Linked DNA regions of Homo sapiens: region 2 is linked to region 1. Evidence: fine-mapped QTL for protein levels in blood plasma. A gene starts in region 1. The other region holds a variant in brackets. All regions are shown on one strand. Distances are from middle to middle.

The links. PIP is the posterior inclusion probability: the model's chance that the variant is causal. Protein levels are from antibody-based Olink assays in UK Biobank. Linkage for the fine-mapping came from a reference panel and not from the study's own genotypes, which makes the PIPs less certain.
Region 2: its variant is fine-mapped to the plasma level of the SLMAP protein (UK Biobank, PIP above 0.99).

What each region holds. Positions count from the first base shown.
Region 1 is chr3:57,753,684-57,759,062 of GRCh38, forward strand. SLMAP (sarcolemma associated protein) reads left to right here and starts at 2,626. Exons shown (of 25, transcript NM_001377540.1): 1 at 2,626-2,659; 2 at 2,865-4,166. The coding sequence starts at 3,969. RefSeq lists enhancers at 1,732-2,634, 2,224-2,503, 2,534-2,713, 2,635-3,536 and a silencer at 3,084-3,363.
Region 2 is chr3:56,813,190-56,818,568 of GRCh38, forward strand. It overlaps a transcript of ARHGEF3 not described here. Among named protein-coding and RNA genes, the nearest start is that of ARHGEF3, 14 kb to the left of the region's middle. The variant T/C (reference allele first, on the strand shown) is at 2,532.

The DNA.
Region 1 (5,379 bases):
TTTTCAGATAAGGAAGCTGAAATTTAGGGAAGCTAAATAATTTACCATTTATGGTGCTGGTAAAAGTATGCCATGTCTGATTCCAGCACCTTGACTTTCATTACTTCTCTTTGATCTTCTAGGAGGAAGATGGAAATGTTCTGAAGTCTGGTGCATTGCCTAGAAGTCCTTCAGCAACTGAAACCTCACTTCTGTCACTCTTTCTCCTCGTTTTCCCTTATCTCTTATGCTCTGGTGATACGAACCTACTTGCAATTCCCTTAAAGTCCTGTTCTCTCAAGTCTCTGGACTTTTGTTGGGATTGCTTCTTAGCTTAAAATTTCTTTATCCCAATAGCATCAGACTAGCTGTTCTAATCCTTTCAAGTTTCAGTTTAAACTACTCTGCCATGTTTCCACTACTCTTGACATACTCCATTACAGCAAGGATCTTTCTGTGTCATCACCTAAATCGAGCAACTTGAGGGAGTCTTTTTGTTTCTTCATTATTGTATTTCCAGGACCTTTCAAAATATCTATTTCACAGTATCAATTAAATGTTTATAGAATGAATGTATGAAAGAATGCATAAATGACTTGCTATTCGTGCAAAAAAAACTCATTAGGGATCTGTGGAGGGTCCTATCTTATTTTATTCCTTAACAGCCTAAAAGTTATCAGAAGTGAAAACTTTTCATCCTCTCATAAGAAAGCTTTCCAACATATCCTCATTTTGAATAGCATACCTGGAACACAGTGGTAGCTTGACACATATTTGTTGAATTGATGAAGAGCTTGAAAAACGAATATAACGTCTTTATTATATAATGCCTATTCTTTCCAGACTCACTTTGTGTCCCGCCTACTTTATCCTCTAATAATGAGTAACAGTATGTAATTTTCATTCATGCATCAAATACTTATTTATCCACTATTATGTGCCGGCACATTGGTGCACTGTTTCAAGTAGGCTCCTTCTTTTCCTTGCTATCCGTGTTTGTGGAAATTCATGAAACCATTCAGCGAATACCATATTTATTGTGGTTTTCCTATCTTCCTTCATTCAGTTCAGTTACTTCTCCCAGACCATCCCTGACCCCTTGGGCAGCTAGTGCCTGCCTCTATCTTAGCCCTGATTACATCAATTTCATGTTTGTCACTCCCTACCCTCATTTCTAACCCACAATACCGTTATGATCTCAGAAGGCAGGAATTGAAGTTTGGTTCAGTTATGTGTCCCCAGGGCCCAGCAAAAACCTAGGACACGGCCAAACTGTCTATATAAGTATTGAGATGAATAACTGCTACTTTTTCTTTCTTTCTTTCTTTTTTTTTTTTTTTTTGGAGAGACAGTTTCACTCTTGTTGCCCAGGCTGGACTGCAATGGCGCGATCTTGGCTCACCGCAACCTCCGCCTCCCGGGTTCAAGTGATTCTCCTGCCTCAGCCTCCCAAGTAGCTGGGATTACAGGCATGCGCCACCACGCCCGGCTAATTATGTATTTTTAGTAGAGACGGGGTTTCTCCATGTTGGTCAGGCTGGTCTCAAACTCCCGACCTCAGGTGATCCGCCTGCCTCGGCCCCCCCAAAGTGCTGGGATTACAGGCGTGAGCCACCGCGCCCGGCCTAATTGCTACTCTTTATTGAACAACATGGATTAACATTTTGAAGTCTCACCACATCAAGTGAATTAACTATTATTAACATGTCATCCATGAGAAAAAAGAGGCTTGAAAAAGTTTAGAAACTTGCTTAAGGTCACACAGTGGTGGAGCCTGTTATTGCAGGAATCTGAAGAATGAAGTCACCTTTGATTCTAAATGAGTAAGTCTCCTTCTCACTATTTTTTCTTAAAGTTTTCATTTAGCCCTTGCAAAGTCTTCCTTCTTTAGACCAATGACTCCTCATCTTGATATTGTAAGTGGGGGAAATACCCTCTTTTTTCACTTTGGAAATTATTCAATCTCTCTTTGGAAGAAACATGATTTTAAACTTTCTGGACGCTCCTTCTGTGGAAGAATCCGCGCAGGAGCCCTGGGGGCACATAATAGGTTCAGTGAGAAAGACTGTCATTCGAAATGGAATGCGGGAACTAAGATTTTTTTTTTCCGGGAAGAAAACATAACGAATTTAGCAGAGGGGAGAATGGTCCTTCTGTTAGGTGCACAAATCCTAAGACTTCAGGGAGTTTGGCGGCTCACACTTAAGGTAGCTGCGGGTGACTGTGTTGCCCACAGCTAAGATGGCTGCTAATGACCATCTCCTTTGGCTGGGTCTGTTCTTTTGCTCGCTAGTATTTTCATCGAGAATTAAACAGAATAAAATTTAGTAAAAGTTGGCACCCCCTTGCTAAGTAGATAAAATAAGAAGGTGGCACTGTTTGTTTGAAAAACCTTCTACGGCGCAAATTGTTCTTGCCCTTAACCAAAATGGTCGTTAAGGTTGTCCCGAGGTTTGAAGCTTCCAGCCCTTAACTAAGATGGCGCCTGGAGGCCCGTTAAAAATTACCTTGCCCTTTTTTCTGCCCTCTACCAACACGGCTTCCGTGGCGTCGTTCACGTGACATTCCTGGACTACGGCGCGGGAGAGGGGGTAGGAGGGCCCTTGAAGGGTGCGCGTTCCCGTGGCGGTGCACCGGGTAGGTTTCAGTCAGAGTCACTATGGCGGCCGGCGCTGGCAAGGTAAGCTGAGGCGGTGGTGGCGGCTAGGGAGGTAGGACCCGTCGTGGCGTCCTGGCTCCAAATCCTCGTAGCCTGCTTGCGGAGAGGTCGGCGGAGGTCGTGCCTAGCGGTGTGGGCTGGCGGGGGTCTGGCTGGAGGGGGCGACGGCTGAGGCGGGCGGGCTGAGGCGCCTGACGGCCGTTTGTTTTGATGTTTTCCCCACCAGGTCGGAAAGTTTCCTGCCTCGTCGGGCGCAGCTTGAGCTTGCCCCATCGGCCGCGATCGGTGGAGGCTGCGGCGGATCCAGCCCGGGGCCTCAAGGCCTCTCCCCAACCTCCGGGCCAGTCTCCCTCCCCCACCTTCTCGTCCGCCGGGAGCTGCGGCTGCCGTCCCTGAGATGCGACCCTCGCGGGGGCGACCCTGAGGGGAGGCGGCCCATGTGCTGAGCGGCGGCCCAGAAGCCTAGGCGTCCGGGGACCAACTTCCTGCCGCCTGGGAACTCGAGCCTCCCGGTGTCGCGCCTCGCTCGGTCCGCACCGGCCTGCGGAGCCGGGTCCCCGCCCTGGTCGCGGGGACGCTCGCCAGGTGCCCAGGAGTCCCGACTTGGCCACTGCCCGCGCCCCGCCGGCCTCCACGCCTCGCGCGGAGAACCTCAGCCACCGCCGTCTCGGATCGTGCCAGGCCGGGGACCGCGTCCCCCTTCCCGGGGCGGCCTCCGCTCAGCAGGGGCGATGCAGACTGTCCCGCCGGCCGTCTAGAGCCCCTCCGTCTCCGTCACCTCTCGCCCCTTCACTCCGGGCGAGGACTGGCGGTGGCTGCCCAGAGGTGCCCAGCCACACCTTCCTTCGGCCCAAAAGGACTTTCCTGGCCGCGCCGAACCGACCCTTCATTCATGCTGCAGTGCTGCAACGTTTCCGCCACCAAGGGGGAAAAGCGGCCGCGATCTCAAACCAAACACAAGAATTGGCGTGTGACTCATCTGCTTGGATACCTCCAGTCCCCAAACTGTGTTCCAGGAGTTTTCTTGGCCGAAGCTGCCCGATGTTTGAGCCTTTTCTTCCCAGAGAAGAAGATGGACTGAAAGCTGCCAGTTGGGGACTTTTTGTGATCACGGCGTTGCAGCGTTTTAAAGGAGGTGATGGGGCTTGCGCTGGCTTGTCTTCCCACCCAAGTGAAGAGTTGATGTTCACTGGTTATGCTTAGACAATGTGCAGTTTGTGTTAATTTAAAATTTTGGGTGGGATAGGGGCATAGGCTTGTGAAGGGCAGTCCGGATCCGGAGGAACTCCTCTTTGTCCCTGGTAGGAGAGACACCCCCAGTCTATCCTCGATGCCGTCAGCCTTGGCCATCTTCACTTGCCGCCCGAACTCGCACCCGTTTCAGGAGCGTCATGTCTACCTGGACGAGCCCATCAAAATCGGCCGCTCAGTGGCCCGCTGTCGACCAGCGCAGAATAATGCCACTTTTGATTGCAAAGTGCTATCAAGGAACCACGCTCTCGTCTGGTTTGATCACAAGACGGGCAAGGTAATGTCACCACATTGTCCAGCGGCATTGTTTAACAAACTTTTTTTCCCCTTTTGCCCTCCCTGAGAGGACTAATGTATGCAGGATCCCAGGGTTTGCATCCAGAGGAGGCTTTGCGCAAAGCCACGAATCAACTGTTTGTGTGCCTGGTTCTAGTGGAAATTTGATTGAGGTGGTTGAATGGAAAACAGAGAAGGTATTGTAATTAAAAGCCTCAGGAGGGCTATGGCATCTTGATAACGTGGTCATTCCCAGTGAAATCCCAAACTAGATAGTGAAACTTGGCGTCTTGCTTTTAGTCTGTTTAGAAAGGTGAATTCACAGTTCAGCGCTTTATTAAGCAAGCAGCAGTTCTCGAAGCAATTCGGGGAATCCGTGGCCATTATTATCCCGGGGCTCAAGTGTCTTAGTGGTGAAATGTAGTTAACACATAGCTTTAGGTGAGTTCAGATCAGGACCTTTCTAGTAAGGATAATTGCTGATATAAACCTAAGATTTTTGAAAGGTTTGATACATACTTGCCCTTGGAGGAGTAATTTGCAATAATCAAAGCTAATTTAATTAAGCATGAACAACTGTAACTTTATATATTTTCAGAGTTTTTTTTACAAGTTGGAGAACATACACATATTGCGTTTGAAAATCACTTTTTGATGTTCCCTGCAGCACTTATTAAGTACTTAATGCATACTTACAGAGGTGCTATTCAAAAGTTAGTGTTAGGAAATAAACTTACTTTCTGAAATTATACCCTATTCTGTCAATTATAGCATTACTTAAATGTGATACGATGAATTCAGTGCTTTTCATTTTAAGCGTAACCAATTTAGTATTTTTATGTTAGTATCGTAAGTTACTATACATGTATGTGCTTTTATTTTAAGAAGTGAAGAAAGAAATTAAGATCCTTTCCATTTTTAAAAACTGTTTATTTATGTTTGTGGAGAGTATACTAAAGAGCTCATCTTTGTGCCTAAACCTCAGGTTTTTAGCTGAGCTACTGAATCAGTTCCAACTTTAAGTTATGTAAGACTAATAGGACTGTCTCAGGTTTCACCTCCTGACTTTTTGCCCCTCTTTCTGAGTTAAATAATTAAATCTTTCTTAAAGGAAGAACTTAAGTCTTCAAGAATATGTTTTGAAATGAAAGAAACCTGAGCCTCAAAAGGAAGAGAAAAAAATGATACTTCGGCAGCTACTGATTTAAGGAATT
Region 2 (5,379 bases), 940 kb before region 1:
AACATTGGTTTAGTGCATCCAAAACACACAACAGATAGAACCACTTTCTTTAAGATGAAGTCATCTTCCAGGAGAAACAATAGCTGGGAAGGCTGGGTTTTTATGATTCATGGGAGGAGGAGAATTTGATCTGTATTTTCTTTGCCACAGTCTATCCCATTTTAATGCATGTTAGAGGTTTTCCACATGTTAGGCAAATTTTCTAGAATGTTTTGAAAGGGAAAAAATTCTGCAGACTGCCTCAGTTACTGAAAGAGTTCTCTTTCTCCCCTGGCTGGGGAGGGATCCAGTTCTGTCTCACCGTGTTATCGAAAAGATCTGAAACTACAACTCTTCATTTGGATTCTGCTGTTATGAAATGCAGTTTGGGGTATCTTGTTACACTTTACTCCCAGAAGTGTTAAAGGAAGTGCCTGTCATCAAAATTCAAAAATAAATATAAAAATGATGCTGGCAGAGCTCAAAAACTAAAAGGATCAGCATTTTGCTTCAGTTTCCTGTTCATAAAACTTTATAAAAACAACCCACCCATTTAAAAAAAACCTGTAACAATAGTTCACTATTCTTTTCCTAAATGCTTGCCTCATGCCACTCTGAAATTAGGTGCCATCACGTTTCCTGAGTTATGGGCCCCAAACACCACATCCTTTTCCTCCCTCCCACACCCCCACCCCACCTGGCATCATTCCTGAATTTAGATGCTTCTCCAGTTTCTGAGCTCAGTAGACAGATGCCAACATTCTCCCTCCTACCTGTCCTGAAGTGGCCAAGCATCTGTACCAGCTGGAAGCAGGAATAATTGAGGCTTCCTTCCCCCAAATTAATTCTCACTTCCTAGAGAAGCTTTTAATATGGAAGGTTAAATTATAAAGTGAAGAGCTAGTAAACTGAAAAAGAATAAGATATTTCCCTCCCACTCTGCCTTTACAGCAAAATTTTCTTTGTGGAATACTCAACACTCTGTCCTTCTTTCTGGAAGAACATAGAATACAAGCTCTAGAACAAGCTTTTCCAACCCATGGCCCACAGGCTGCATGCATCCCAGGATGGCTTTGAATGTGGCCCAACATAAATTTGTAAACTTTCGTAAAACGTTATGAGACTTTTTTTTGCGATTTTTTTTAAGCTCATCAGCTATTGTTAGTGTTAGTGTATTTTATGTGTGGCCCAAGACAATTCTTCTTCCACTGTGGCCCACGGAAGCCAAAAGATTGGACACCTCTGCTTTAGAATGAGAAGCCTGGGTTCAAATACCAAGTTTTCACTTGCCAACTATATGACTTTGGACAGTTTACTTAATGATGACAAACATCAGTTTAAGCATCTATAAAATGGGGATATGAGAGTTTCAAGGTTTTAATGAGTTAAAAACACATGAATAATCCAATAAGATAATATGTATGTCAGATTTCTAAGCATACAGTTAGCACGTCATGCTATTATTAACCCTTCCGGTAAATAAATCATCCTTCTCCCTTTTTTTTTAAATGAATTAAGGAAAAAAGGTGGAATTTGGAGAACTTTTCCAACACTCCTTGCTTCCAAAGACATTAATTCTTTGATTTAATCTTATAATTTCAAAAAAGGATATGACTGTTGCACATATATAAAAGAAGCAGCAGAGTGAAGAGTGAACTGACCTAAATTAGAAGACATGGGCCAGGTGCAGTGGCTTACACCTATAATCCCAACACTTTGGGAGGCCAAGGTGGGAGGATCACTAGAGCCCAGGAGTCTGAGACTAGCCTGGGCCACAAAGTAAGACCTCATCTCTACAATAATAATAACAATTATTATTATAACAATTAGCCAGGCACAGTGGCATATGCCTATGGTGACAGCTACTCAGGAGGCTGAGGCAGGGTGATTGCTTGAGCCTAAGAGTTTGAGGCTGCAGTGAGCTATGATCGTGCCACTGCATTCCAGCTTGGGCAACAGAGCGAGACCCCACCTCTAAAAAAATTAAAAAAAAAAAAAAAAGAAGACATGGTATACAATCTGGCCCTACCATTAAGTCTGTGGTCTTGGGCAAGTCAAGTGATCTCTCTGAGACATAGATTCTTGAACCATATAACAAGGTGATTTAAACATAAATGTGTATGCTTCTGTGATTCTATTAAACAGCAAAGACTGAAGTGTATATGGAGTATTATCTTGATTTTATGCTATTTAATTTCAGGAAAGCTTTCAAATAAAAATTCATATCTTATGTACTGATGAAAGCACCCTGTCTAAAATTAGCATGTTTGGTATAGGCAGCCCACATTTTGGGTTGGTTCAGCATGGTAATATTTTATGAAGGCTCATCAGAAAATTAAGCTCAATGTACTCATTTGTCAAGAAATGCATATGCATATAGATTCTTTTAATATCAAATGGCAAAGCAAACAAGAGGTTGAAACAGAGGAAAGATCAACTATGAGAAAAGAATTACTGAGGGAAAATGGAGACAGACTACAAATGGGATAGAACTGGCCTAAAATATACCACTGTCACTTAAAAATAGGTACTCGGTTACATAGTGCCTGTGT[T/C]ATCTTTACAACAGCATTTGGTTCCTACACTGTCTTCTTCCTACAGGCCTGTTATGACTATGAGAGCTATCTGTTCCTTCAGTGGACCAAGTCTTGCTGCCTTGTGGATTCTGCCCAGTCACAGCTTCCCTTCTGCCCTTCAAGGGTGGGCTGCTTGCATCTAAGTGGTAGGGCCATACCTAATTCTGTTCTGGATATAACACAGATGACTGACTGGGCTTGGTGGCTGATGTCTATAATCCCAGTACTTTGGGAAGCTGAGGCAAGAGGATCACTTGAGGCCAGAAACTCAAGACCAGGCTGACCAACATAGTGAGATCCTGTCTGTACACAAAATGTAAAAATTTAGGAGGGCATGATGGTGCATTCCTATAGTCCTAACTACTTTAGAAGCTGAGGCAAGAGGATGGCTTGAGCCCAGGAGTTGGAGGTTACAGTGAGCTATGATTGTACCACTACACTCCAGCCTGAGTGACAGAGCAAGACTCTGTCTCTAAAAAACAAAACAAAAATACACATCTAGATGGTTGCTGGCATGAGATGCTAAACCACAGGCTTCTCAAAGCTGAGGGTTCTGTGCAACCCTGGCCAAACTTCTTACCCAAAATACTTACTTACATTAATGTTGTCCATTTATAAGAATTAGAACTAAAAACAAAGATACCTTGCAGCAACTTCTAAATAGTGCCCCATAAATAACAAATAGCACTAGAATTACTTAATAAATCATAATCTTCATTATTCTCTAGCATCTGTTTCCCCTACTAGATTGTACGCTCCAAAAGAATCATGAATCGCTTGTACAAGGCTACATCCCCATTGCCAAAAGATGCCTGGCAAGTGATGAGAGCTCAGTAAATGATGCTGAGAGCCGAAGAGGTGTTTGCTCTCTGCCAGGCACTGTGCTTTGACTTTAATGAAGTATCTCAAGTAATCCTTACAACAATCCTATGAAATGAGTACTTCTATAGTAGGAGAAACTGAGGCACAGAGAGTTCAAGCAACTTGCCCAAAGTCACACAGCTAGTAAGCAGCAGAGCTGGAGTTCAAATGCAAGCACCTTGCTTCTAGAACCTCAAGTTCCAATTCTGAAGCGGAACGTTAATTCACAGGCCAGTCACAAACCAGGGAGTCCTGAGGCCAGAGCCTATGATGCAAGGGTCAAGGATTTGAGCCTATATGATATGACTGAAAGAACACTGAATGAGAAGCAGTGCTGACTTGGGTCCAGTCCTGTGACGTTTTTGCTCACCAGCTTCCCCTGCTGATCAATCAGGGGGTTGGATGCTCACTCAAGTCCTTGTCAGGTGTCAACCCCAAGTGCTAGAGTCACCCTAGACATAATCTCACATCCAGAAAACTACAGAGCACAGTGTGCTCTTCCACCTTCCACGAGGGAGAACCACCAAAATATCAACCATCAAGCAAGTTACTCAGTCTCTCAGAACTTCAGTTTCCTCATCTGCAATCAGGACCAAATAGCACCTACTTCAAAGGGTGGAGGTGAAGATTAGAGAGAAACCTGGTTAAGGGGCTACCACATAGTAATAATTTCATAAACAGTAGCTAGGTTTATTATGGTCCCAAACAGAGCGAGGAGATAAGTCTGGAGGAGGAACGAATCTCTTCAAAACCCAGGAACCAACCAACCAGTTGGAAAGACAGCTCTGAAACTCAGATTTTTAAACAATTTCTAACAGTAGACTACATGTGTGGCACATCATCCAAGCAAAAAGTTCCATATCAGATTCTCTTTCAACAAATGGAGTAATAAAGACAGGTTTGAGTTAACTTCAGCTGGAACAGAAAGAACCATTATGACTTGGGAAGTTCACACCTGAGTGCTGAAAAGCTAGAAAATAATGTTAGGTGCCATTTGCCTTATGCCAGACCTGTGACAAGCATGTGACATATATTACCTTACTGAATCCTCACAACCTGCTGAAGAGGGTACTGCCCTGTTGTATAAATGAGGGCATGGAGGCTCAGAGAAGATAAGTAACTTGCTCAAGATCACACAGCTACTAAATAGCCATGCCAGAACTTACTTAGTCTGCCAGAACGTTGATGGTCTTAACCACAAAGCTACACCCTTCCCCAAAGATAGCGTGTCATTGGCCCCAGCATGCCCCGTACCCACAGGGCAATCATGTCCACACCATGGGCAAGTGGCTTTATAGGAAGGCCACGCATGGGGGATCAAGTGGCCTTGGGTTTTGGTCCCTGTTTACCCACAGACTGTGGCAGCTATGGACAAGTCATTTAACTTTCCTGGACCCTGTTTTGATCAAACAGAATGTACTGGATTAAAGTTTTTCAGTCCAAGTCTTGTGGAACATTAATCACTTACATTTTATACCCGAGAGGTTAGGGATAAAAGAGGAGCCAAAGACATAATGAGCTAACCCTCTGTCCTGGGACTCTGGCTAGGGGAAGAAGTGGAACACATTTGTTACCAAACAGAACTGGGTGACCCTCAGTTCCCTTCTATCTTGAAAATTCTGAAACTCTACTGAAAATTCTGAAATTCTCCTGAAAATTCTGAATTTTATGTGACAGGAGAGGACAAAGAAGAAAAGGACTTCAGGGAGTCATGTGGGAGGTGGCAGGGTGGCCATCTCAAAGCTATGTTTGCACAGCGACTACAGTGTACATGCTTAGCTGGTAAGCTTATTTGAGGTGCTTCTGGAGTGAGGGGGCTGGTGGAGATAATGGGAAAGGAAGCTAAATTCCTCCTCTTGAAATGACTAGTATTGCATACAGCAAGCACTCTATAGATGCTGATAGAACTGAATTCAAAGGAAAAAAGACCTGGATCAAACTGATAGAAGTTGAGCTGCTGCTCAAG